Homo sapiens: one gene and its partners. The protein of the gene in region 1 purifies or fractionates together with the protein of each later gene. This does not show direct contact. Each region holds a gene or a part of one and is shown in the gene's direction. Other genes may lie near its edges. The genes, in order: GAB2, YWHAE, STK38, MARK2, LIMA1, GSPT2 and FERMT2.

Region 1 (3,500 bases):
TTCCCTGTGTGAAACTGGAATGACTTTGCAGGCCTTTATAAACATGCTCATGTGTTATATATAAGGTGTGTATGTGTAGCATTATCATTACTGGCTGATTACCAGACTTTCTTTTCCTGCTCCAGCAAAGCCAACACCACTTGACCTGAGGAACAACACCGTCATCGATGAACTCCCCTTCAAGTCACCTATCACCAAGTCTTGGTCTAGGGCCAAGTAAGTGCGTATGTGTGGGGGTGGGAGCTTGGAGTCGGGCCATTAGGGAAAATGAGTGATGTGGTAGCTGGCCTGTGGGCCGGGACAGCTGGATTCTGATGCTAACGCTATCATTAGCTGATCATGTCTCGATGTCTTGTGGCTTGGTTTCCTCAGCTGTAAAAGAGAATAATTATACCTGCCCTATATCAGATCTTAATCTGATGGAGTGTGCAGCTCTAATGGCTGAGGTCTGGGTGTGTGAGGGTCAGGGCCCAGCTGGAGGCTAGAAACATGGCAGCAGCCATGCAGCTTCCCCAGTGTTAACTCTTCCTTCCCACAACAGCCACACCTTCAACTCCAGCTCCTCCCAGTACTGCCGCCCCATCTCCACCCAGAGCATCACCAGCACAGACTCAGGAGACAGCGAAGAGAACTATGTCCCTATGGTGAGTCCTTCGGGCTTCGCTGGAATGACGCCTTTCAAGTCCCCTGGGACCCACCCCTCAGTTCCCCACTTCCCAGCTTAGCTAACTCACCTCAGCCCAGGGACTCCTTGTATTATTCATGATTTAGTCTCCTGCTACAAACCCTTCTTGAGCACCTGTTTATCAAGCAGTAGGAGTTGTCATCAGATGTAAGGAAGACATGAGACCTGTCCCAACGAAGTCATGGTCTTCAAGAGCAGGGGCCTGCCTCTCATGACAGTGACATGGGTGGCATGATCTGTGCCCTTGGATAGGCAGTGCTGGAGGTATCTCCTCAGTGGTGGAGGTATCTCCTCAGTGGTGAGAGGCATACGTGCACATAACTCACTTTGGTGAGGCCATAATAGAGCTATCAACACAGGCAGAGGAGGATATTTCTTCCCTGAGATTTCCATTAAGGGCGTAACTGCCCAGCACCTGGTAGTCACTGCATAGATAGTGAAAGAATGAATTAACCAACCAGTAAAGCAGCCAACAAACAGAACACAGGACTATCACCTTCTCATTAGAATAAGACTTCCAGAAAGTTCTAGAGGAGGTGGTGCTCTGCTAGAGCACGAGCCTGGATGGACAGGATCCTAGAGCGTGTCATCTGAAGAAATGCGGGCTTGTGCAGCCTGGAGATGAAGCCACCCTCTTCAGATCTTGGAGGAGCTAGGCGGGGGAGCAAGCTGCTTTGGGGTGACTACCCCACTCTAGGCCACAGGTGGGAGTTTCACAGGGGCTGATTTGGTGCGACAGAAGAAAACTTTCCAGTGCATAAAGGAAATGTGCTCCTTTCTTAAGCGCCAGCAAGCAAAGGCTGGATGTCTCAGGAGAGCCACTGTTGATGAGACTTGGCCTGATGTGCTAGAAAGGAGGCAGTGTGGTACAGGGGTTAGCACAGGTTTGGAAGTCAGAAAACAGACCTGATTCCCATCACTCAACAGCTGTGCAGCCACAGGCAAAGTCACTTCTCTGAAAGTAAAGTGAACCACAGTTTCATCTTTGCTTTAAACAGTATCAACAGTAATCATACCTACCTTACAGGATTGTCATGAGGATTAAAATGAAAACATGAAAAGTCCTTAGCATGGTGCATGTGTCAGAGTAGGGCTCAGGGAAACAGTGTTCTTACTCCCAGAGGTGTTTTTCTGGGTGGTGGGTTAGTCTGTTTTCTGCAGTCACTCACAGTTTTTTCCTCCTCGTGACAGCAAAACCCAGTGTCTGCATCTCCCGTTCCCAGTGGCACGAACAGTCCTGCCCCTAAGAAGAGCACCGGCAGCGTTGATTATCTGGCCCTGGACTTCCAGCCGAGCTCCCCAAGCCCCCACCGCAAGGTGCCTGGAGTAGAGTTGGGGGGGCAGTAAGAGCTCTCAGGGTCCCGGAGGCAGAGATCATGGAGGCCAGGGTGCCTTCAACACTGAACAGCAGCACTCAGCCTCCCTCCTGCTCCAGTACCCAGCTTTTATGATGCATCTTTAGTCATAGAGCTTTCATCTAGGTCTAAAGACTCCTATTCCTGCTCTCAGAGCACAGTACCCTCAGTCAGAGAACCTCATCAGTCAGCCCATCCCCCGTGTTGTAGAGATGGGCAAATGAGTGCACAGAGATCTGATTGTCCTAAGGTTACAAAGTGAATCAGCAACAGATCCAGGAATGAGGATACTGCCTCCTGGTCCTGGGCTCTCGAGTGGGTCCAGAGCCCTGCCGTCGATACATCAGCCTTCAGAAGGGACTTCCAGGCCTGGGAAAGCCTCCCCAGGAGGCATCCTTATAGCTAAGCAGTCTAGACAGAAGGGTGCAGAGCTGTGCCTCAGCATGGTTCCCCTTCACAGGGTGGCAGTGAGCACAGCACGTAAAGTCCTGTGGCTGATGTTTGTTTGCACCTAGCAAATTCCTTCCCCTGGATGAGCGACCTGACAGAGATGGGTGGAGGCAGAGATGAAGGCCTGGACCCATCCACCAGGGCCAAGGAAGGGCCTGGGTCCTCCCAGAAGCCGGGAAGTAAGAAGGGCTGGCAGGTGCTGCTACATCCTGCAGGAGGGATGATGAGTTTGGAGTCTGAGCTTTAAAGCCCACATTCAGAAAGAGAAGCCAGGCTCCTGAGGCTGGTCAGTGGCAGGCAGAGGCCATGCTCTTCTCCCCTTCAGACAGCTCAGGAAGATCCCGTGCCCACCTTCTTCCTCCCCACCTAACTGGTAACTCACAGCTACTCCCTCTTTCCCACTCTGTCCCCTCAGCCATCTACTTCATCCGTCACCTCTGATGAGAAGGTGGACTACGTTCAGGTGGACAAGGAGAAGACCCAGGCCCTGCAGAACACCATGCAGGAGTGGACAGACGTGCGGCAGTCCTCAGAGCCTTCCAAGGGTGCCAAGCTGTGATGAGAGGGCCACCGCAGAGCCCAGGAGGCAGCATCTCCAGAGCTGGCCCTTCCCATCTCCCCTCTCCCCTCTCCCGTTCTTCCTCCCATCCACCTCCTCTCTACTCTGCCAGTCTCAGCCTTCAAAGCACTTGACATCAGGGACCCTGAACCCTTCCCCTGGGAGGTGAGGGCCTGATCAAGGCACCTCCTCTGCCCACTCGGGGCCCAGCTGTGATTTTTATCAGTAATGGCCATGCCTCCACCCACCTTAGTTAGGAGCTACTTCCAAAAAGCATCCTTCAGCCTCTTCCTGTCCTTTAGACCTGACTCTCTACCAGATGTTTGGAGGGAAGGGCTGGGGCTCTGAGCCAGATTCCACACCTCACGTTCAGTCACAGCCCTCAGCTATCTTCCCTCCGGCCACTGGGCTACCTCTCCTTCAGTCCCAGAAGACAAGTCTCACCAACCCA
Region 2 (3,500 bases), on another chromosome or scaffold:
AAGTAGCTGGGATTACAGGCATGTGCCACCATGCTTGGCTAATTTTTGGGGGCATTTTTAGTAGAGACGAGGTTTCACTATCTTGGTTAGGCTGGTCTCAAACTCCTGACCTCAGCCTCCCTCCCAAAGTGCTGGGATTACAGGCATGAGCCACTGCGCCCGGCCAATTTTTAAATTTTTTTTGGGCTGCGTGCAGTGGCTCACGCCTGTAATCCCAGCACTTTGGGAGGCCGAGGAGGGCAGATCACGAGGTCAGGAGATCGAGACCATCGTGGCTAACGTGGTGAAACCCCGTCTCTACTAAAAATACAAAAAATCAGCCGGGCGTGGTGGCGGGCGCCTGTAGTCCCAGCTACTCGGGAGGCTGAGGCAGGAGAATGGCGTGAACCTGGGAGGCGGAACTTGCAGTGAGCCAAGATCACGCCACTGCACTCCAGCCTGGGCGACAGAGCGAGACTCCGTCTCAAAAAAAAAATTTTTTTTTGTTGTTTTGTTTTGTAGAGGCAGGGTCTGGCTGTGTTGCCGAAGCTGGTCTTGAAATCCTGGCCTCAAGTAATCCTCTTGCCTTAGCCTCCCAAAATGCTGAGAATACAGGCCTGAGCCACTGCACCAGGCCCTTTTGCCCATTTTTGAATTCATGTTTTTTTCGTTTGTTAAGTGTTGAGAGTTCATTATTCCAGATAGTAACCTCTTAGCAAGTAAATGGTTTGTGAGTATTTTCTCCTCTTCTGTAGGTTGGCATTTTGTTGTTGTTGTTGTTTTTTGCTATTGTCTTTTTCTTTTTTTTTTTCCCCCGAGAGGAGAGTCTCGCTGTGTTTCCCAGGCTGGAGTGCAGTGGTGCAATCTCAGCTCACTGCAACCTCTGCCTCCCGGTTTCAAGCGATTCTCCTGCTTCAGCCTCCCAGGTAGCTGGGATTACAGACGCCCGCCACCATACCCAGCTAATTTTTGTATTTTTATGTAGAGATGGGTTTTCACAGTGTTGGCCAGGCTGGTCTTGGACACCTCACCTTAAGTGATCCAGCCACCTCGGCCTCCCAAAGTGCCGAGATTACAGGCGTGAGCCACTGCACCCAGCCTATTTTAAATTTTTACAGTAAATATTGCAGTAGCAAAATGGTTTTTTTGCTTTTTTTTTTTATTTTGACGGAGTCTCACTCTGCTGCTGTGGCTGGAGTACAGTGGCGTGATCTCAGCTCACTGAAAGCTCAGCCTCCTGGGTTCAGGCGATTCTCTCGCCTCAGCCTCCCAAGTAGCTGGTACTACAGGCACCCGCCACCACGCCCGGTTAATTTTTTGTATTTTTTTTTTTTTTTTTTTGAGACGGAGTCTCGCTATGTCCCCCAGGCTGGAGTGCAGTAGCGCGATCTCGGCTCACTGCAAGCTCTGCCTCCCGGGTTCACGCCATTCTCCTGCCTCAGCCTCCCGAGTAGCTGGGACTACAGGCGCCCGCCACCACGCCCGGCTAATTTTTGGTATTTTTAGTAGAGATGGGGTTTCACCGTGTTAGCCAGGATGGTCTCGATCTCCTGACCTCGTGATCCACCCGCCTCGGCCTCCCAAAGTGCTGGGATTACAGGTGTGAGCCACCGCGCCCGGCCTATTTTTTGTATTTTTAATAGAGATGGGGTTTCCCTGTGTTAGCCAGGATGGTCTCGATCTCCTGACCTCGTGATCTGCCCTCCTCGGCCTCCCAAAGTGCTGGGATTACAGGCGTGAGCCACCGCGCCCGGCCCCTTTTGGTTTTTGTATGTGTTTTTTTTTGGTTTGTTTGAGGACAACTGCTTAAGCAAAGTAGGGTTTTTAAGTGAAAGCCTTTCAAAGTTTGAGGAAAGGGGATTAACTGATACATTGGAACTTTAATGTTGACTATTATAGGCATGCTTCACTGCGCTTGACTGAATTTTTTTTTTTTTTTGCATTTTTAGTAGAGACAGGTTTTCACCATCTTGGTCAGGCTGGTCTCGAACTCCTGACCTCAGGTGATCCACCTGCCTCAGCCTCCCAGAGTGCTGGGATTACAGGCGTGAGCCACTGCGCCCAGCCAATGTAAAAACATTCTAAATGGCTAGTTGAGTTTGTCCAGATAGGGATCGTAACTGAAGAAGCTGTGGCTATTTAGCTAATACTGGTGGTTGCACCTTTCCTTGTCAGACTCCAGTCTAGCTGTCCCACGTGTAGCTCCAGTTTAAAGTCACTCGCATGCCTTTGCTCATGCTTCTGCTTAAACCTGAAGTGTGTTTTGTTTTCTCCTTATCCATTGAGATTAGTTCAAATTTGACTTTCCCTTTAATTGCTCCTCCTTCTGGGTCCCTGAAATACTTTATTTGGAATAGCACTTCATTCTTCTTCTTCTTTTGTTTTTGTGCTCTCTTGCCCAGGCTGGAGTGCATTGGCACAGTTTCACCTCACTGCAACCTCCGCCTCCCAGGTTCAAGGGATTCTTCTGCCTCAGCCTCCTGAGTAGCTGGGATTACAGGCATACGCCACCATGCCCGGCTAATTTTGTGTGTGTGTGTGTGTGTGTGTGTGTGTGTGTGTGTGTGTGTGTTTTTAGACGGAGTCTTGCTCTGTTGCCCAGGCTGGACTGCAGTGGCGTGATCTCGGCTCACTGCAGGCTCCGCCTCCTGGGTTCACACCATTCTCCTGCCTCATCCTCCCAAGTAGCTGGGACTACAGGCACCTGCCACTGCTCCCGGCTAATTTTTTTGTATTTTTAGTAGAGACGGGGTTTCACTGTGTTAGCCAGGATGGTCTCGATCTCCTAACCACGTGATCCGCCCGCTTCTGCCTCCCAAAGTGCTGGGATTACAGGCTTGAGCCACTGCACCCGGCCTAATTTTTTGTGTTTTTAATAGGTTTTGCCATGGTGGCCCGGCTGGTCTTGAACTCCTGGCCTCAAGTGATCTGCGCGCACGCATCAGCCACCCAAAGTGTGCTGATTACAGGCATGAGCCACCACAGCCAGCCTCCTCCTTGTAAAATAGTTATGTATTTGTCTACCCTCCATTTCTAAATTTTTAAGTTGATGTGGACTTAGATTATGTCTCTTTTTTTTCTATTGGTATATCGTATCGTTTGTTGGACATAGTACACAGTACTCAGTAAGTGTGGATTTTCTTTTAAAACTGTAAATGGCTTACATAATCACATTTCCATGGCGTCTGTGTTGCCTTTTATTTTCTTTGCTTCCCTGCCTCCATTAACGTGAAATTAAATTTTTTTAAACTTTGAGGTATTGTCCAAGATTTTCTTTTTGCATTAATACTTTGTTAAATATCTCAACCTTGTAATCCAGCACTTTGGGAGGCTGAGGCGGGCACATCACGAGGTCAGAAGATCAAGACCATCCTGGCTAACACGGTGAAACCCTGCCTCTGCTAAAAATATAAAAACAAATCAGCCGGGTGTGGTGGCGGGCGCCTGTAGTCCCGGCTACTCGGGAGGCTGAGGCAGGATAATGGTGTGAACCCAGGAGGCGGAGCTTGCATTTAGCCTAC
Region 3 (3,500 bases), on another chromosome or scaffold:
GGCAGAAGAATCACTTGTACCCGGGAGGCAGAGGTTGCAGTGAGCCGAGATAGTACCACTGCACTTCAGCCTGGGTGACAGAGTAAGACTCTTGTCTCAAAAAAAAAAGTATTTATTAGACATTTTCTGAATTTTAATCATGGAGATGTAATCACAGCCCTTTCCCCTCCCCCTCCGCTCCCCTCTTCTCTTCCTGACAGAATCTCGATCTGTCGCTCCTCTTCTCTTCTCTTTTCTTTCTGACAGAATCTCGCTCTGTCACCCAGGCTGGAGTGCAGTGGCACGATCTCAGCTCACTGCAACCTCTGCCTCCCAGGTTCCAGAGATTTTCCTGCCTCAGCCTCCTGAGTAGCTGGGATTACAGGCACGTGCCACCACGCCCGGCTAATTTTTGTATTTTTAGTAGAGATGGGGTTTCACCATGTTGGCCAGGCTGGTGTCCAACTCCTGGCCTCAGGCGGTGTGCGAGCCTCAGCCTCCCAAAGTGCTGGGATTACGGGTGTGAGCCACCATGCCTGGCCCTATTTCTGTTAAATACACTATTTTTCCTGGTTTTCAGTGTCTCACCAAAATACTGTCTGTTTTCAATTAGGGTGGAATAGCCCTATTCTCTCATCCCTGCTACCTCCAAATCAGGCTATGCCAAGAGGGGACCCTAAATTAGATTAGAAAAGGGGGCTAATTGTAAGTAGTAGTCATGAATGTGTCTGCACATTGCTATACATTCTGACTTTTTAAAATTTAGCAGCATACATTTAGAAAGTAGCTGTGTACAAAGCACTATTCTTAGTGGACATAGGGAATTCAGATATAGTCCCTGCCTTCAGAAGGACTTACCACTCTCTCATATAAGAAATGAACACACACGCAACTAAATGGAACACATGGAAGGCATCACTGGGGTGAGGCTGGATATGGCCTCTAAGTGTGAAAGTGGCTTCGTCTCTCTCCTAGGGTTCTGGTTTTGAACATTGGAATTGAAGGGAAGAGTGGCTCCACCAAGGGCTGGAGTGTTAGTTAACCTGGCACTGCTACCAGAGAACATGCCTGTGTGGAGAGTCCTGCTATTCTTTTTCATTATGAACAATTTTAAACATAGGTGGAATAATATAGTGACCCCGTTTCAATATATTCATCCCTCAGATTTAATAATTTTAGGGCTTTGGTACATTTTCTTCATCTATCCCATTTTGTTTTTTCTTGCTATTGTGTTTTAAGGTAAATTCCAAACATCTGTCATTTTAATCCTACATACTGTCAAGTATGCATTTCCAAAAATATGGCCATTTTCTTGCATAATGCAAATGCCACCATGAATCTAACCAAGTTAACAGTAATTCCTTTGATGTCATCTCACAGAGGATGTCATTTTTAAGTCTCATTTCAGGCTGTCCTTGCTGTTTTTGGTGTCCTCAAGGTCTTTGTGGACCTGGTCCTAATTGTTATCATGGATAGGCTTTTTTTTTCTGGATACTTTCTCTAATGAAATAATCTGATTGTGTTCAAGGAGTTAACTTCACTCTCAGGCAGGTATTCTGCAACCAATTTAATTACACTTCAGTAAACCTGTGGAAAACCTCTTAGTTTGTATTTAGGTTTAAAATATAATTAGAAGGAGCCACTTTTGTGACACAGTGGATAGTGCATTGGACTGGTAGCCCATTCTGATGTAGTCATTCAAAAACGTGTAGTCAGGACGTATGATGGTGTTTAGTACTCAAGGCACAAAAAGAGCTGACCACAGCTGTGTTCTTAGAGCTTTTGCCTAGCATGTTATGCTTTGACTTTTCTTGTTCTTCTCTGCTTCAACTACCTAACCACTTGCAATGGAATTAATTTACACTCCCGAAACTACTAAGAGTACAGCCTTTTCTCTCTAATACATGTGCACGCATAGATGCACATGTATCCCAAAATATTCTGGGAACTGGGAGAACTGTTCGTGTTCCTCTCTCTGTTTCCTGTCTTGATTAGTGGCATCATATCCCTCTAGACAGGAAATTCTAAGGTTTTTCTCTTGACTCCTATTGCCAGTTGGTCATATTTGCAATAGCTCTATTCACTTCATTCTAGTTTTCCTGCCCTAGTTCCAGATCTTTACTGTACATCTGAATCATTACAATAACTCTCAACTAGCCTCTTTCTCAGTTGCTTTCCCTGCCAGTCCATCAGATCCTCATTACTGCTGGTTACCATTCTAAAATAGAAATCTTATCACATCACTCCTTTGCACACAAGCCTCTTTTAGCACTCAGTTGTCTACAGAATGAGATCCAACCTTCTTGGTGTGGCATTTGTAGTGCTGTGTGCGTCAGCCACAATGGACTACATGCTATTTCTGCAGCATACTGTACACTCTTTTTTTTTTTTTGAGATGGAGTCTCGCTCTGTTACCGAGGCTAGAGTGCAGTGGTGCGATCTCGGCTCACTGCAAGCTCCGCCTCCTGGGTTCACAACATTCTCCTGCCTCAGCCTCCCGAGTAGCTGGGACTACAGGCGCCGGCCACTACACCTGGCTAATTTTTTTTTTTTTTTTGTATTTTTAGTAGAGATGGGGTTTCTCTGTGTTAGCCAGGATGGTCTCGATCTCCTGACCTCGTGATCTGCCTGCCTCAGCCTCTCAAAGTGCTGGGATTACAGGCGTGAGCCACCGCACCTGGCCAGCATACTGTAGTCTTATCCTTCTTTGCTCTGTTTGTACACATTGCCTGTTTATCTGGAATGCTGATGAGTGGTGGAGGAGAGATTCTAGCCCATGTGCTTTCATTTATTGTGCTGAATAAATGAAGGTTCTGTGGAATTGGTTGTAAGGAAGTTTTACTTGCTTCTTTTAGTTTTATGAGACTATAGATCAAAAACATTACTGCATGTACTTTCTAAAGTTCAGTATTCCAAAAGTTTGATGTCTGAAGGTTTTTTTTTTCTTTGAGGCAGAGTCTCACTCCGACATCTGAGCTGGAGTGCACTGGTGTGCTCTCGCCTCACTGCAACCTCTGCCTCCCAGGTTCAAGTGATTCTTGTGCCTCAGCCCCTCCCAAGTAACTGGGATTACAGGCACCTGTCACTATGCCCAGCTAATTTTTATATACATATATGTGTGTGTGTGTGTGTGTACTAATATATATACATATATTACATATATGTGTGTGTATATATATGTGTGTATATATACGTATATACATATGTGTATATGTATATATGTATACATGTGTACATATATACATATGTATACATGTGTATATACATATAAATATATATATATATACATATATTTTTTTTTTTTTTTTTGAGACGGAGTCTTGCTCTGTCACCCAGGCTGGCATGCAGTGGCGTGATCTTGACTCACTGCAACCTCTGCCTCCCAGGTTCAGGCAATTCTTCTGCTTCAGCCTCCTGAGTAGCTGGGACTACAGGCGCTCGCCACCACGCCTAGCTGATTTTTGTATTTTTAGTAGAGACAGGGTTTTACTATGTTGGCCAGGCTGGTTTCGAACTCCTGA
Region 4 (3,500 bases), about 14 Mb from region 1:
TCCCACTGCTGGAGAGCCAGGCTATCCCCAGGTTAACCCTGAAAGTGCTAACTCCTGAGCAGAATGTTACTGCCACCCGCCCCCTTCCTTTTTGTTATAGGCCATTGAAGGTCATTGCTCGTCTTTTTTTTTGAGACAGTCTTGCTCTGGTCACCCAGGCTGGAGTGCAGTGGCAGGATCTCAGCTCACTGCAACCTCCACCTACTGGGTTCAAGCGATTCTCATGCCTCAGTCTTCCAAATAACCAGGATTACAGGTGCGCACCTCCATGCCTGGCCACTTTTTGTATTTTTAGTAGAGATAGGGTTTCACCATGTTGGCCAGGCTGGTCTTGAACTCCTGGACTCAAGTGATCCGCCTGCCGTGGCCTCTCAAAGTACTGGGATTACAGGAGTGAGCCACCGCGCCCGGCATCATTGCTTATCTTTTAGACTGAGATAGTACAGCTGATTCTAAACAGCACCCAGAGAGAATCTGGCCTCTTGATTTCCAGTTGTGTCTCAGAGGAGGAGGCATCCCAGTTCCTCCTCTTGCCCTCTAGACATCTCCTCCTCTGATAAGTATAAATAGGCTAGATCCCTTTATCTTCATATCTGTTTTTGTCTGGAATGTTTCAAGTTTCTCAAGCTAGGTGTGGTGGCTCATATCTGTAATCCCAGCACTTCGGGAGGCCACGGCAGGAGGATCACTTGAGCCCAGGAGTTCAAGACCAGCCTGAGCAACATAGTGAGACCTCATTTCTACAAAAAAAAAATTTTTTTTTTGAGACGGAGTCTTGCTCTGTTGCCCAGGCTGGAGTGCAGTGGTGCGATCTCAGCTCACTGCAACCTCCGCCTCCCGGATTCAAGTGATTCTCCTGTCTCAGCCTCTTGAATAGCTGAGATTACAGGTGTACGCCACTGTACCCCGCTAATTTTTGTATTTTTAGTAGAGATGGGGTTTCACCATGTTGGTCAGGCTGGCCTTGAACTCATGACCTCGTGATCTGCCTCAGCCTCCCAAAGTGCTAGGATTATAGGCATGAGTCACCCCGCCTGGCCAAAAAAAATTTTTTTTTTTTTTTTGAGACGTTGTCTTGCCCTGTCGCCCAGGCTGGAGTGCAGTGGCACGATCTCGGCTCACTGCAAGGTCCGCCTCCCGGATTCACGCCATTCTCCTGCCTCAGCCTCCCGAGTAGCTGGGACTACAGGTGCCCGCCACCACACCCGGCTAATTTTTTTGTATTTTCAGTAGAGACGGGGTTTCACCTTGTTAGCCAGGATGGTCTCGATCTTCTGACCTCGTGATCCACCCACCTCGGCCTCCCAAAGTGCTGGGATTACAGGCGGGAGCCACCGCGCCCAGCCCAAAAAAATTTTTAAAAAGTTACCTGGGTGTGGTAGCACATGCGTGTATCCCACCTACTCAGAAGGCTGAGATGTGAGGATCACTTGAGCCTGGGAAGTTGAGGCTGCAGTGAGCTGTGATCATGCCACTGCATTCCAGCCTGGGCAACAGAGTGAGACCCCATCTCAAGATAAATAAGGTTTGTCAGTCCCTGTGGTGGTTCTTTCCGCAGATGTCTGTCTTTGGGTTGGCACTTATTTCCCCCTACTTGCAGTTATTCCTTACATTTCTCATTAGAAAATGGCAAAAAGGGCAAAAGTAAATTCATTTCCTTTTTACACCAAATCATTAATTTTAGGCTTATAAAACTAAATGAACAGAAGATTTGGTAGGAGAGGAGGGGAGATGGACACTGATACTGGTGGCTAGGTGATCCTGAGGGACAACTGGTGCCTGGCAGAAAGAGAGGAGGGCTGTGTTCAGTGACTGGCTCCCAGCCACCTTTTTGGCCTTTTTCTTTTTAACATGAGGAAGGCGGAGCAGACCAGGGGCTTCTCTGTAGAACCAGTCAAGCTGGTTTTGGGCAGCCTTGGCCTATTTTCTTGTGTGCTCTTTGGGAAGTTGGCAATACAAAGGTCTGCCTCCTTTGGGGCTGTGTTCGTTGAGGCGAAAGTTTGGAAGACAACTATCTGTCAACAACCCCCTTCTCCCCAAACACTGAATGGGTCTCTGAGCTGGTCCTTCACTCCAGGGAGGAGGCTTTCTCTCCACCCTATGCTGAACCTGAAGGCAGCTTTGCTTTATACACCTTTCACTGAAAGCTCTAAGACATTAACTCCTTTTTTGGACTCCCTTCCCAATTCACAACTTGGTGAAAGACCCTCAGCCTAGCCAGGAGGAAGGGACTGGGTCTGCCTTTGGCTCCTCATTTATGGGTCTGGGAGGGGATCAGGACTCCTTACTGCTATGATCTGGCTGCTAAATTCAGTGACATCCCAGGCCTTTTTTCGTCCACGCAATGGGACTGTCTGTCCAGGCCTGCTGGGAAAGAAAAGAGAGAAAAAATAGTTTTTGCTCTTTGGCAGCTTACAGGGACTTCAGCCATAGGAAACAACCTGTAGGAAAGGTGGGAGCTTCCGGTCACCATGTGTGCTGACACTTCCTGCAATAGCACTAGGAAGTCTTTCTCAGGGAGCAAGGCCAGCCAGGTAGGATTATTTCCCAGTCTCCCAGCTAAGCAGGAAATGCCAAAATATGAACGTTTAGTAATTAGTGAGTGTAACTACCTGCTGACAGAGCTCCAGCCTAGACCTTGTCCTTGGGGGCTGGTTGCCCCTGTTGATACTACAGTGAGCTACTCATTGCTTCTGATTACCATTTCAGTATGAGTTTTGCTTTGGTTTCTGATATCCCATGTGCGGCTGCCTTTTTTCTCCACCTTCTTTTTGTTGTGTCTTTTTGTTTTTTTGAGACGGAGTCTTGCTCTGTTGCCCAGGCTGGAGTACAGTGGCACAATCTCAGCTCACTGCAACCTCCGCTTCCCAGGTTCAAGCAATTCTGCCTTAGCCTCCCAAGTAGCTGGTACTACAGGCATGTGCCAGCACACCCGGCTAATTTTTTTTTTTTTTTTTTTGAGACAGGGTCTCGCTCTGTCGCCCAGGCTGGAGTGCAGTGGCGCGATCTCAGCTCACTGCAAGCTCTGCCTCCCGGGTTCACACCATTCTCCTGCCTCAGCCTCCCGAGTAGCTGGGACTTCAGGCGCCCACCACCATGCCCAGCTAATTTTTTGTACTTTTTTTTTTTTTAAAGTAGAGATGAGGTTTCACCATGTTAGCCAGGATGGTCTCAATCTCCTGACCTCATGATCCACCCACCTCGGCCTCCCAAAGTGCTGGGATTACAGGCGTGAGCCACCGTGCCCGGCTGTAACACCTGGCTAATTTTTGTATTTTTAGTAGAGATGGGATTTCACCATGTTGGCCAGGATGGTCTCGATCTCCTGACCTCGTGATCCGCCCGCCTCGGCTTCCCAAAGTGCTGAGATTGCAGGCGTGAGCCACCGCGCCTGACCTTGTTGGTGTTTTTAAGAGACAGGGTCTCACCCTGTCACCCAGGCTAGTATGCAGTGGTGTGATCATAGCCCACTGCGGCCTCAAATAGCTCCTAGGCTCAAG
Region 5 (3,500 bases), on another chromosome or scaffold:
TACCATGAAAATTTTACATTCTTTTGATGTTCTTTTAAATAATTTCTTAATACTACTACCCTGGGCCGGGCGCGGTGGCTCACGCCTGTAATCCCAGCACTTTGGGAGGCCGAGGCGGGAGGATCACGAGGTCAGGAGATCGAGACCATCCTAGCTAACATGGTGAAACCCAGTCTCTACTAAAAATACAAAAACAAAATTAGCCGGGCGTGGTGGCAGGCGCCTGTAGTCCTAGCTACTCGGGAGGCTGAGGCGGGAGAATGGCGTGAACCCGGGAGGCGGAGCTTGCAGTGAGCGGAGATCGCGCCACTGCACTCCAGCCTGCGTGACAGAGTGAGACTCCGTCTCAAAAAAAAAAAAAAAAAAAAAAAAAAAATACTACTACCCTGAAACTAAGAACTTTCATCTTTAGGGGAAAAAAAGATGCAACTTTTTTGTACTTCTGATAACAAGTGTGGATCTATTTTCCCCCTTAATTATTCTGTAACAGAGTTTATGATATGGAAAACTTTACAGTCCTTCAAATATGTTTTGTCTTGCACAAAGTATTGCCATTTTTGTTTCATTACCCATAAATTAGTCCCAATATCCGCTTTACTTAGTTTTAGATTTCCACAATCTTTTTTTTCTCCATAAACTGAAATTCAAGCTAATGCCCCGGGACTTCTTTTATTTCATAGTCAGTTTTACTAAACAGGTAACATTTGCTCAGCTTTGGCGTCTGAGCAAAAATTTGGCTTCCAGCACTACAGGAAAGCTGTCTGTCCATGCATAGTATCCAGTGGTTTCTGTCTAACGGTCCTTACCCCTTGGCAATAACTGACCAAGTGAACAACTTGTCTAGTTCTTCCTTTCATTTGCTTTTCTTGACATGACTACTATCTGGTTCTCCATTTTCTAATCTAACCACTTACTCCCATGATCCATTAACTCAGTCTTTTTGCCCCTTAAATGCCGGGTTCACCATAGCCCTGCTCAGCTTCCTATTCTCACTATACTTTCTCCCTTTATAATCTGATTTCTTTCCATGACTTCCACTATCACCTCCATGTAAGTGGCCTGAAAATTTATCTTTTTAAAAAACTTCTTTCATATTGTATATATAATTGTTTTATTTTCATATATGCCAACACATTTAAAAATAAAAATTATAGATATTTATATTATTATAAAATAAAAATTATATATGTTTATTATAGAAAATGTGGAAAAAACAGGCCGGGTGTGATGGCTCATGCCTGTAATCCCAGCACTTTGGGAGGCTGAGGCGGGTGATCACTTGAGGTCAGGAGTTCGAGACCAGCCTGGCCAACATAGTGAAACCCCATCTCTACTAAAAATACAAAAATTAGCTGGGCATGGTGGCGCATGCCTGTAGTCCCAGCTACTAAGGAGGCTGAAGCAGGAGAATCCCTTGAACCCAGGAGGCAGAGGTTGCAGAGAGCCAAGCTCATGCCACTGCACTCCAGCCTGGGTGACAAAGCAAGACTCCATATCAAAAAAAAAAAAAGAAAAGAAAAGAAAAAAAGAAAATGTGGAAAAAACAAATTATAAAGAAGACAAAATAACCCATATTCCATAATCTGTTCCAGAGAGATCTATCATTTGATATATTTCCTTTCAGTGGTTTTGTTTTCTTTGATATACACACACTCACATAAACACAAAGGTAATTGAACTCATACTGTTGCAGTAGATATAGTTTTGTGTCTGCTTTTTTTGCTTTATATTATTTTTCATAGCATCAAAAATTTTTGAAAACATTTAAATGGATATTTAATCTCCATTGTAATCTATTTAATAATTTATTATATTGAGGTTGCATAATTTATTTGTGTTTTGGTTTTACATTAAATGAAAACAATTGAGAACAAATTTATGCATAAATCTTTGTGCAAATGACTCATTATTTCCTTAGGTTAGATTCCCAGAGGTTGAATTACCAGGTCAAGGAGTGTGAAAATTTAAAAATACTAAACCTGCTCCCAAATTGCTTTTTGTAAAGATTAGACTAATTAACATTCTCAACTGCAGTGATTGTGAGTGCCCATCTTAGTGCGGCCTTGGTAACATTGAATATTATTATTATGATGATTTTTGAGATGGAGTCTCGCTCTGTCGCCCAGGCTGGAGTGCAGTGGCACGATCTCTGCTCACTGCAAGCTCCACGTCCCGGGTTCATGCCATTCTCCTGCCTCAGACTCCTGAGTAGCTGGGACTACAGGTGCCCGCCACCACACCTGGCTATTTTTTTTTTTATTTTTAGTAGAGATGGGGTTTCACCGTGTTAGCCAGGATGGTCTCAATCTCCTGACCTTGTGATCCGCCCACCTCGGCCTCCCAAAGTGCTGGGATTACAGGCATGAGCCACCTCGCCCAGCCCGTCTGGCTAATTTTTGTGTTTTTTAGTAGAGACAGGGTTTCACCCTGTTGATCAGGCTGACCTCAAGCCCCTGACCTCAGGAGATCTGCCCACCTCGGCCTCCCAAAGTGCTGGGATTACAGCATGAGCCACCGCGCCCGGCCCGAATATTATTTTTTAATCTTTACTAATTTGATAGGCAGAAATGAATTAATTTGTATTTCTTTGCTAGTGAGAGAGAACATTTTTCATACATTCATTTCTGTTTCTTCTGTGAATTATGTCTGGGTTAATCCCACTCCCATTTTTATTTGGGCGTTAACATTTTAATTATGTTGGTTTTTTGTTTGGTATTCTTTTATTTGGAGCGTTTTGTGGGGGAAGCACAGGCTTTTATTAGACCAAATAGAGTGAATGGAGTGACAAAGTGGAAAGTATACAGAAGTTGGAATTGTGGTGTTATAAATGCCCATTGTTTTGAGGGGCCAGAGCTTGTGATCAATGAAGCAGTACTGCAGAATGGAAAGGGTGCTATTTGAGAGTCAGGATTCCCAACTTAATGTTGTCATCAACCAATCAGGTGATCTTGGACAAGTCATTGATTCATTGACTCAGAGCCTCATCTGTAAAATGAGAGGGTTGGGCTTTTGATCCCCAAGACTGGACAACCTCTGTGCTGAAAGGATGCCTTTGGAGCTACTACTGTTCACTAGACATTCTGGAATTACTTTCTGTCTCATCTCTAACCTTTCACCTAATTTTAGATATATAGAGCCTGAGGAAAGACTGGATGCAGTAAAGGCAGTGTCCACCGGAGTAGCAAGGGGAGCCTGGGGACAGCTTAATTTGTTTGTGCCCTTTAACTTTCAGGAAAATAGAAGTATAAAAAAAAAATTGAATGGGGTTCTTGCTGTGGGGGTTGGGGGAAGAAAAGAAAAAAAAAGAAGTCAAAAAGATTGGTATTTTTTTAGGCACTCCCATAGACTGACACTTGGAAACTGGTAAGATAAAATCACAGAAGCCCTGCTGACCTGTGCCACAAAACTCGATTATCTACAATGTATGTGAAAAATGTCTCATTTTGTGACTAGAGGGTGTACGTCTCCAAGGCAAGTTATTTAACAACTTCTTCTACTTC
Region 6 (4,250 bases), on another chromosome or scaffold:
CATGGTGAAACCCTGTCTCTACTAAAAATATATATTAAGAAAAATTAGCTGAGCTTGGTGGCGGACGCCTGTAATCCCAGCTACTCAGGAAGCTGAGGCAGGAGAATTGCTTGAACCCAGGAGGCAGAAGTTGCAGTGAGCTGAGATCATGCCACTGCACTCCAGCCTGGGCAACAAAAGTGAAACTTTGTCTCAAAATAAAAAAATAAATCCATCTATGTGACACCATCTTGTACTAAGCAGATTGTTTGGACTGAATAGTCTTTCTAGGTATGTCACAAAACCTGAATTCATAAAAGCAAAAGGTGACAGATTTGAGTACATGAAGACTAAAAACAGATTCAGAGAATAAGTTTGTATTTTCTATGTCAGTTTGCACTAAATTAATTTACAAACAAGGTCGCTGAGGCTTTGACTCAACTGTTAACACTTTCTGAGAGTGAGATTCTTTTGATTAGGGTCTTAAGGTCTTTGTTCATCTCAGAAGTCTTAATTGGTTTAATTAGGCTGACACCTACAGCCCTGTCTCATTACCATAAACTGTAGAGGGGTTCAACATGACACTGATTGTTTCTTAGAGCAAAGCCAGTGCAGTGAGTAGGATTCCAGGCCCCCCGGAATGAAGCAGGAAAACCCGAGGCCTGTGGATGCAGGATGTACTAGGGAGGTGCTGGGGAGTAGTGCAGATAAACCCAGAATTCAGTTGGTTGGTAAAACAAGAGTGATCTGAGTCCTGTGCTTGTCTACGTGATCCACCATTGAATGGCAGGCCAGCCATTGTGCAGGCATCTGCATATGAAGTGACTGGAAGCTTCACTGGAACAAGGATCTCCTTGGAAATTCTCTCCCCTCAGACAGCCAGGGTGCTTAACATGAAAAGAAGTTGTAACCCTATCCTTAAACTATAGAAGCCATCAGCAGAAGTTACAGGCTTATGGGGGCCCACTGGAAAGGGAAAATCAAAAGGCCTGTGGATTTCAAATTAATGAGTGATCTTAAGTTGCATTTCCTAAGTTCGGCTACAGACTCATATATTTCATGAGTCCCTCCCTACCCATTCCTTGCCTCTCCCTTCAGTTGCTGGGTTTCTGAATTTCTGTATAGTTAACCCTTATCTTGCCTCCCATTTGTTCAATAGAAATGATCACTTTTACTTGAATCTTTTGGTAGAATTGTATACCATGTGTTCCTGTCTAGGTTTAATCATCAGATTGTGGTCAAATTGCTCTGCCAGACTGTGTGAACAAAAAAGTGAATGGAAATTTTCGTTTTAAAAAATAATACTTTTGGACTTAGCCCGTGGCTAAGAAGAAGTAAGGAAGCCAAGCGTACGGATAGCAGCGAGGGGTCAATCCACGCCCGGCGTTGGGTCGGGGGTGGAGGAGTCGGAAGTGGTTGGGGTTTGGGGGAGGAGATCCGCTCACACACAAGAGGAGAGTGTTGAGCCGCCATATCTGCTGCTGCCGCCGCAGTTGCGAATGCAGCATCGGCGCTTAGCTGCCTCCGCGGTGCAGCTAAGGTTCGTGTCGCTACCCCTTGGCCCTTCGCTCTTGCTGCCTTAACCCCGCCGGCGGAGCCCGCTCTTCTGGCCTGTTGAGCCCGCTCCCTCACTGCCACACAGCAAGTTCCGAGACCATGGATTCGGGCAGCAGCAGCAGCGACTCGGCGCCCGATTGCTGGGACCAGGTGGACATGGAATCCCCGGGGTCGGCCCCGAGCGGGGATGGAGTCTCCTCTGCGGTGGCCGAGGCCCAGCGCGAGCCCCTCAGCTCGGCTTTCAGCCGTAAGCTCAACGTCAACGCCAAGCCCTTCGTGCCTAACGTACACGCCGCGGAGTTCGTGCCGTCCTTCCTGCGGGGCCCGACTCAGCCGCCCACCCTCCCGGCCGGCTCCGGCAGCAACGATGAAACCTGCACCGGCGCGGGATACCCTCAAGGTAAAAGGATGGGACGGGGGGCACCTGTGGAACCTTCCCGAGAGGAACCGTTAGTGTCGCTTGAAGGTTCCAATTCAGCCGTTACCATGGAACTTTCAGAACCTGTTGTAGAAAATGGAGAGGTGGAAATGGCCCTAGAAGAATCATGGGAGCACAGTAAAGAAGTAAGTGAAGCCGAGCCTGGGGGTGGTTCCTCGGGAGATTCAGGGCCCCCAGAAGAAAGTGGCCAGGAAATGATGGAGGAAAAAGAGGAAATAAGAAAATCCAAATCTGTGATCGTACCCTCAGGTGCACCTAAGAAAGAACACGTAAATGTAGTATTCATTGGCCATGTAGACGCTGGCAAGTCAACCATCGGAGGACAGATAATGTTTTTGACTGGAATGGTTGACAAAAGAACACTGGAGAAATATGAAAGAGAAGCTAAGGAAAAAAACAGAGAAACCTGGTATTTGTCCTGGGCCTTAGATACAAATCAGGAGGAACGAGACAAGGGTAAAACAGTCGAAGTGGGTCGTGCCTATTTTGAAACAGAAAGGAAACATTTCACAATTTTAGATGCCCCTGGCCACAAGAGTTTTGTCCCAAATATGATTGGTGGTGCTTCTCAAGCTGATTTGGCTGTGCTGGTCATCTCTGCCAGGAAAGGAGAGTTTGAAACTGGATTTGAAAAAGGTGGACAGACAAGAGAACATGCGATGTTGGCAAAAACGGCAGGGGTAAAACATTTAATAGTGCTTATTAATAAGATGGATGATCCCACAGTAAATTGGAGCATCGAGAGATATGAAGAATGTAAAGAAAAACTGGTGCCCTTTTTGAAAAAAGTAGGCTTCAGTCCAAAAAAGGACATTCACTTTATGCCCTGCTCAGGACTGACCGGAGCAAATATTAAAGAGCAGTCAGATTTCTGCCCTTGGTACACTGGATTACCATTTATTCCGTATTTGGATAACTTGCCAAACTTCAACAGATCAATTGATGGACCAATAAGACTGCCAATTGTGGATAAGTACAAAGATATGGGCACTGTGGTCCTGGGAAAGCTGGAATCCGGGTCCATTTTTAAAGGCCAGCAGCTCGTGATGATGCCAAACAAGCACAATGTAGAAGTTCTTGGAATACTTTCTGATGATACTGAAACTGATTTTGTAGCCCCAGGTGAAAACCTCAAAATCAGACTGAAGGGAATTGAAGAAGAAGAGATTCTTCCAGGATTCATACTTTGTGATCCTAGTAACCTCTGCCATTCTGGACGCACGTTTGATGTTCAGATAGTGATTATTGAGCACAAATCCATCATCTGCCCAGGTTATAATGCGGTGCTGCACATTCATACTTGTATTGAGGAAGTTGAGATAACAGCGTTAATCTCCTTGGTAGACAAAAAATCAGGAGAAAAAAGTAAGACACGACCCCGCTTCGTGAAACAAGATCAAGTATGCATTGCTCGTTTAAGGACAGCAGGAACCATCTGCCTCGAGACGTTCAAAGATTTTCCTCAGATGGGTCGTTTTACTTTAAGAGATGAGGGTAAGACCATTGCAATTGGAAAAGTTCTGAAATTGGTCCCAGAGAAGGACTAAGCAATTTTCTTGATGCCTCTGCAAGATACTGTGAGGAGAATTGACAGCAAAAGTTCACCACCTACTCTTATTTACTGCCCATTGATTGACTTTTCTTCATATTTTGCAAAGAGAAATTTCACAGCAAAAATTCATGTTTTGTCAGCTTTCTCATGTTGAGATCTGTTATGTCACTGATGAATTTACCCTCAAGTTTCCTTCCTCTGTACCACTCTGCTTCCTTGGACAATATCAGTAATAGCTTTGTAAGTGATGTGGACGTAATTGCCTACAGTAATGAAAAATTAATGTACTTTAATTTTTCATTTTCTTTTAGGATATTTAGACCACCCTTGTTCCACGCAAACCAGAGTGTGTCAGTGTTTGTGTGTGTGTTAAAATGATAACTAACATGTGAATAAAATACTCCATTTGAAACTCTTCGGTTATTTGAAATGCTTTTGAATAATGTTTAAATGTCATTATGTAATGCTATTCAATTAGCTTTATTACTTTCTCAAATAGTTGAATATGTTCTATCACTTAAAAACTTAAAAACTCTTCACCACTTACTGTTTTAAGTGAGGAATTTACAAACAATGCATAAGTGTGTATTAAAGGAATAATTTTAATTTTGAGAAAAAAACGTATGTTAAGGCTCTTCCCAGTGGGCTTTGTTTTCTCTGTCCAAGTCCAGTCAATAAAGGAGCTCTTCTGCTTCCCCACTTGTGATTTGAAAATGAAAGGCT
Region 7 (3,500 bases), on another chromosome or scaffold:
AAAATACTTTAAACACTAGGATTAGAGCTTGGCAAGATGCACACTGGGAAAGAGGCATACGTAACTGGACAGCTCCCTTATACCCTGGCTTAGTGCTCCCTGGGGAAGGTGTGTGCTTATTTGGTGGAATGGTGCCTATGCAGTTGAAATCCTTAGTTTTTCCCCTTGAGGGCTCACAACTGAATTCATGGAAATTAATGCCTACATGATGCATCCTCATTGCATTCATAGTGAAATACATTAACATTATAAGAAATTTTTTTAAATCTTGGGGGTGGAGTAGGAAACAATGTTAAAATCTTATTAAAGTGAATTAAGTTTTGGTTAAATCTGATAGTAAGTTTACTCAGTGTTTAAAACACTGTTCATGATCCATAGGAAGTGAATTAAATTGTATCAGTTTCTTAGCAAATTTTAAGTTCTTTAAAAGTGGAGGACAGTACTCAAGTTTTACTGTAATCCTGTGACAGCTAATAAAGTATGAGCTATTCCTTAGAGTATGTGCTATTTGCTGCCTTTTGTTTTTGTTTTGCTGCTATGTTTTATACCCAGTTTTTTAAAGTAAAAAACTGTTTGTTTCCAACTAGAGTTAACTTATTTATAGAGATGCTAAAAATATGTTTATTCAATTACTTATAAAAGGCCTTGTTGGAAATGTCTAATCGCTCGCTATTGAAGAGAATGGAAAGAAAATATGTAAAATTTTACCTGTTATCTTTGGCTCTTAATTTTTAAAAGTTTCAAACATCTAAGTTCAAGAGTAATTGAGTGAACACTGCGTAATCTTCATCTAGACACCAGTTAGTATTTTGCCATTTGAATTTTCTATACACACAAACATACACATGTTGGGGAGCAGTTGGATGAAGTTTCAGACTTACTCATAACCTTTGATTCCTAAATATTTAAATATGTATCACCTAAGAACAAGAAACTTCTCTTGCATAATTACAGTATAGTGATCACATTCAGGAAATTCAACATTGATTCACTTCTGTCATCTAATATGCATCCATTTTCAAAATTTGCCAGTTGTCCCAATAATGGCCTTTGTTTTTTTCCCATCCAGAATCTCATTTCGCATTTAGTTGAAAGGGCCTCTTAATCTCCTTTGATATACAGAACAGCCACCAAGTGTGGAGCTACAGGAGATTATATAATAAATGGCTTATTGACATTACATTAAGATACATGTAAAATGATAGTATCTGTTTGTAAACTTTATGGCCACCCTGTAGAACAGTTCCTCAGCCTTGGTCTTTTAAGACATTGTTTAACCTTTTTAAAATAAGGTTCTTAGTATCAGTGCAAATTTCACTTCAGAGTGATTTTTTTTTCTTTTGAGACAGAGTTTTGCTCTTGTCACCCAGGCTGGAGTGCAGTGGCACGATTTCAGTCCACTGCAACCTCCGCCTCCCAAGTTCAAGTGATTCTCCTGCCTCAGCCTCCCAAGTAGCTGGGATTACAGGCACCCGCCACCACGCTAATTTTTGTATTTTTAATAGAGATGGGATTTCACCATGTTGGCGAGGCTGGTCTTGAACTCCTGACCTTAGGCGATCCGCCCACCTCGGCCTCCCAAGGTGCTGGGATTACAGGCATCAGCCACCACGCCTGGCCAAGAGTGATATTTTTATAGGTTCTTTTTCACATACTTTATTTTTAAAATTTAGTTTACTTCTTAGCTTACTATTAAATAAGCTGTTAATAATAGTTTTAGACATCATTGGATGTAGGTTTCCCATAATGTCAGCTGTTCTCAGACTGTAGTAGGTGCTGATGGAGGCACAGATTATTAAGAAATAACAGGTTGCCTAGTGTGTCAGAAGATCTGGATTCAACTTCTGGCTCTGTCTGCTACTTTACTGGTTAGTATGACCTTTGGACAATGAATCCAACCTGAGTGGGTTTTGACTTCTATAAAATAGAAATTGAAAAAAATTTTCTTGGGGCGGGCGGGGTGGCTCACGCCTGTAATCCTAGCACTTTGGGAGGCCGAGGCAGGTGGCTCACGAGGTCAGGAGATCAAGACCATCCTGGCTAACACGATGAAACCCCGTCTCTACTGAAAATACAAAAAATTAGCTGGGCGTGGTGGTGGGCGCCTGTAGTTGCAGCTACTCGGGAGGCTGAGGCTGGAGAATGGTGTGAACCCAGAAGGGGGAGCTTGCAGTGAGCCGGGATCGCGCCACTGCACTCCAGCCTGGGTGACAGAGCAAGACTCCATCTCAAAAAAAAAAAAAAGAAAAAGAAAAACATTTTCTCACAGGTTTTGGTGAGAATTAAATGAGATAATACATATATATTGATACTACATGTATATATACTTTATATAAACTATTTGTGTTATGCAAATGAGAGTGGATACTTCTCTGTGGCATTGAGTCTCTGAGTATATGAAAGTAGGAAGGAAAAAAAGGAAAAGTAGGTTAAAATATAATCTAGTATATTTAATAAGTTCCAGCTTTACTGGTGGGGAATTGCACTCCTCAAAAAAAGCTTAGTTTAGGATTGCTTTCTGTTCCCACCCTCTAAACAACAAGAAAAAATAGCTGTCATTTTACTTTCCCGCCAACTTCCAAACACACACCTGCCTCTGCAGTGTAAGAGAGCTATTTAAGTACCATTTTAATAAGATTTCTGAAATGCAGGGGACCAATAAGTGGATGATGGTATTCCAGGTATTTGAAAAATCTAAAACCATGAAAGCATCAGTAGTAAATTAATTCTCTACTTAATATATTCTATAAGAGCAGTGTTTTTAGTTCATTTATAGCAAAGGCACATGAAAACATTGGGCCTATTTAGAAACTAATGAAAGTAGTTTCAGAAAAAAGCTAATGTATGCAGTATTCCTATTTAAATAATTATTTTACTGACAAATTAATGCTTATGCCATGGAACATTTAAAATTGGTATATATGCCCAGTGAGAAGTAAACAAATACATCTGAAAGTGTATTTTTAAATAATTCTTTTATTTTGTAATTAAGAAGTGTGACTTCTGCACTTGGGTTTGTGGTTACAAATTCATATTCGTTATAATTCATTCTTTAACAAATTAGTTGCATAATTACTATATAATTGTTTTTCCTGTTAATTTTTTTTCTTAGTGTCAGGCTCATTGAGGTCTGATTGACATATAGTAAAATTTATCCTTCTTAGTATAATATTCTGAGTTTTGACATGTAAAACTACCACAGTCAAGATAGAAAACTTTTACAGTACTCCCAAAAGTTTCCTTTGTAACCGTCTCATCGCCTCAAACCCAGATCCTAAAAACCAGTGATAATTTGCCTTTTCTAGAATGGCCTGCAAATGGAACCATTCAGTTCTAGCTCTTTGAATCTGGTTTCTTTCACTTAGCATAATACATGTTAGCTTCGTTCATGTGTTTGTATCAATAGTTTTTTATCACTGAGTAGTAGTCCATTGAATGGATTATTTCACAGTTTGTCCATTTAGCAATTGAAGGGCATTTGGGTTACTCCCAGTTTTAGG

The links.
Region 2: the proteins of GAB2 (region 1) and YWHAE purify together in Homo sapiens (affinity purification with mass spectrometry; 4 studies listed by BioGRID and IntAct, with this or other methods). This does not show direct contact.
Region 3: the proteins of GAB2 (region 1) and STK38 purify together in Homo sapiens (affinity purification with mass spectrometry; one large-scale study listed by BioGRID and IntAct). This does not show direct contact.
Region 4: the proteins of GAB2 (region 1) and MARK2 purify together in Homo sapiens (affinity purification with western blotting; one study listed by BioGRID). This does not show direct contact.
Region 5: the proteins of GAB2 (region 1) and LIMA1 purify together in Homo sapiens (affinity purification with mass spectrometry, with the first as the bait; one large-scale study listed by BioGRID). This does not show direct contact.
Region 6: the proteins of GAB2 (region 1) and GSPT2 purify together in Homo sapiens (co-immunoprecipitation; one large-scale study listed by IntAct). This does not show direct contact.
Region 7: the proteins of GAB2 (region 1) and FERMT2 purify together in Homo sapiens (co-immunoprecipitation; one large-scale study listed by IntAct). This does not show direct contact.

Annotation. Positions count from the first base shown.
Region 1 is NC_000011.10:78,218,821-78,222,320, reverse strand, and holds part of GAB2 (GRB2-associated-binding protein 2), read left to right. Parts: exon of another isoform or gene 1-125; coding exon 126-216; exon of another isoform or gene 217-541; coding exon 542-644; exon of another isoform or gene 645-1,532; intron 1,533-1,876; coding exon 1,877-2,002; intron 2,003-2,905; coding exon 2,906-3,049; 3' UTR 3,050-3,500. UniProt on the Homo sapiens protein: Adapter protein which acts downstream of several membrane receptors including cytokine, antigen, hormone, cell matrix and growth factor receptors to regulate multiple signaling pathways.
Region 2 is NC_000017.11:1,355,223-1,358,722, reverse strand, and holds part of YWHAE (14-3-3 protein epsilon), read left to right. Parts: intron 1-3,500. UniProt on the Homo sapiens protein: Adapter protein implicated in the regulation of a large spectrum of both general and specialized signaling pathways. Binds to a large number of partners, usually by recognition of a phosphoserine or phosphothreonine motif.
Region 3 is NC_000006.12:36,526,980-36,530,479, reverse strand, and holds part of STK38 (serine/threonine-protein kinase 38), read left to right. Parts: intron 1-3,500. UniProt on the Homo sapiens protein: Serine/threonine-protein kinase that acts as a negative regulator of MAP3K1/2 signaling. Converts MAP3K2 from its phosphorylated form to its non-phosphorylated form and inhibits autophosphorylation of MAP3K2.
Region 4 is NC_000011.10:63,845,610-63,849,109, forward strand, and holds part of MARK2 (serine/threonine-protein kinase MARK2), read left to right. Parts: intron 1-3,500. UniProt on the Homo sapiens protein: Serine/threonine-protein kinase. Involved in cell polarity and microtubule dynamics regulation. Phosphorylates CRTC2/TORC2, DCX, HDAC7, KIF13B, MAP2, MAP4 and RAB11FIP2. Phosphorylates the microtubule-associated protein MAPT/TAU.
Region 5 is NC_000012.12:50,277,021-50,280,520, reverse strand, and holds part of LIMA1 (LIM domain and actin-binding protein 1), read left to right. Parts: intron 1-3,500. UniProt on the Homo sapiens protein: Actin-binding protein involved in actin cytoskeleton regulation and dynamics. Increases the number and size of actin stress fibers and inhibits membrane ruffling. Inhibits actin filament depolymerization.
Region 6 is NC_000023.11:51,741,992-51,746,241, forward strand, and holds GSPT2 (eukaryotic peptide chain release factor GTP-binding subunit ERF3B), read left to right. Parts: upstream 1-1,450; 5' UTR 1,451-1,635; coding exon 1,636-3,522; 3' UTR 3,523-4,241; downstream 4,242-4,250. UniProt on the Homo sapiens protein: GTPase component of the eRF1-eRF3-GTP ternary complex, a ternary complex that mediates translation termination in response to the termination codons UAA, UAG and UGA.
Region 7 is NC_000014.9:52,941,051-52,944,550, reverse strand, and holds part of FERMT2 (fermitin family homolog 2), read left to right. Parts: intron 1-3,500. UniProt on the Homo sapiens protein: Scaffolding protein that enhances integrin activation mediated by TLN1 and/or TLN2, but activates integrins only weakly by itself. Binds to membranes enriched in phosphoinositides.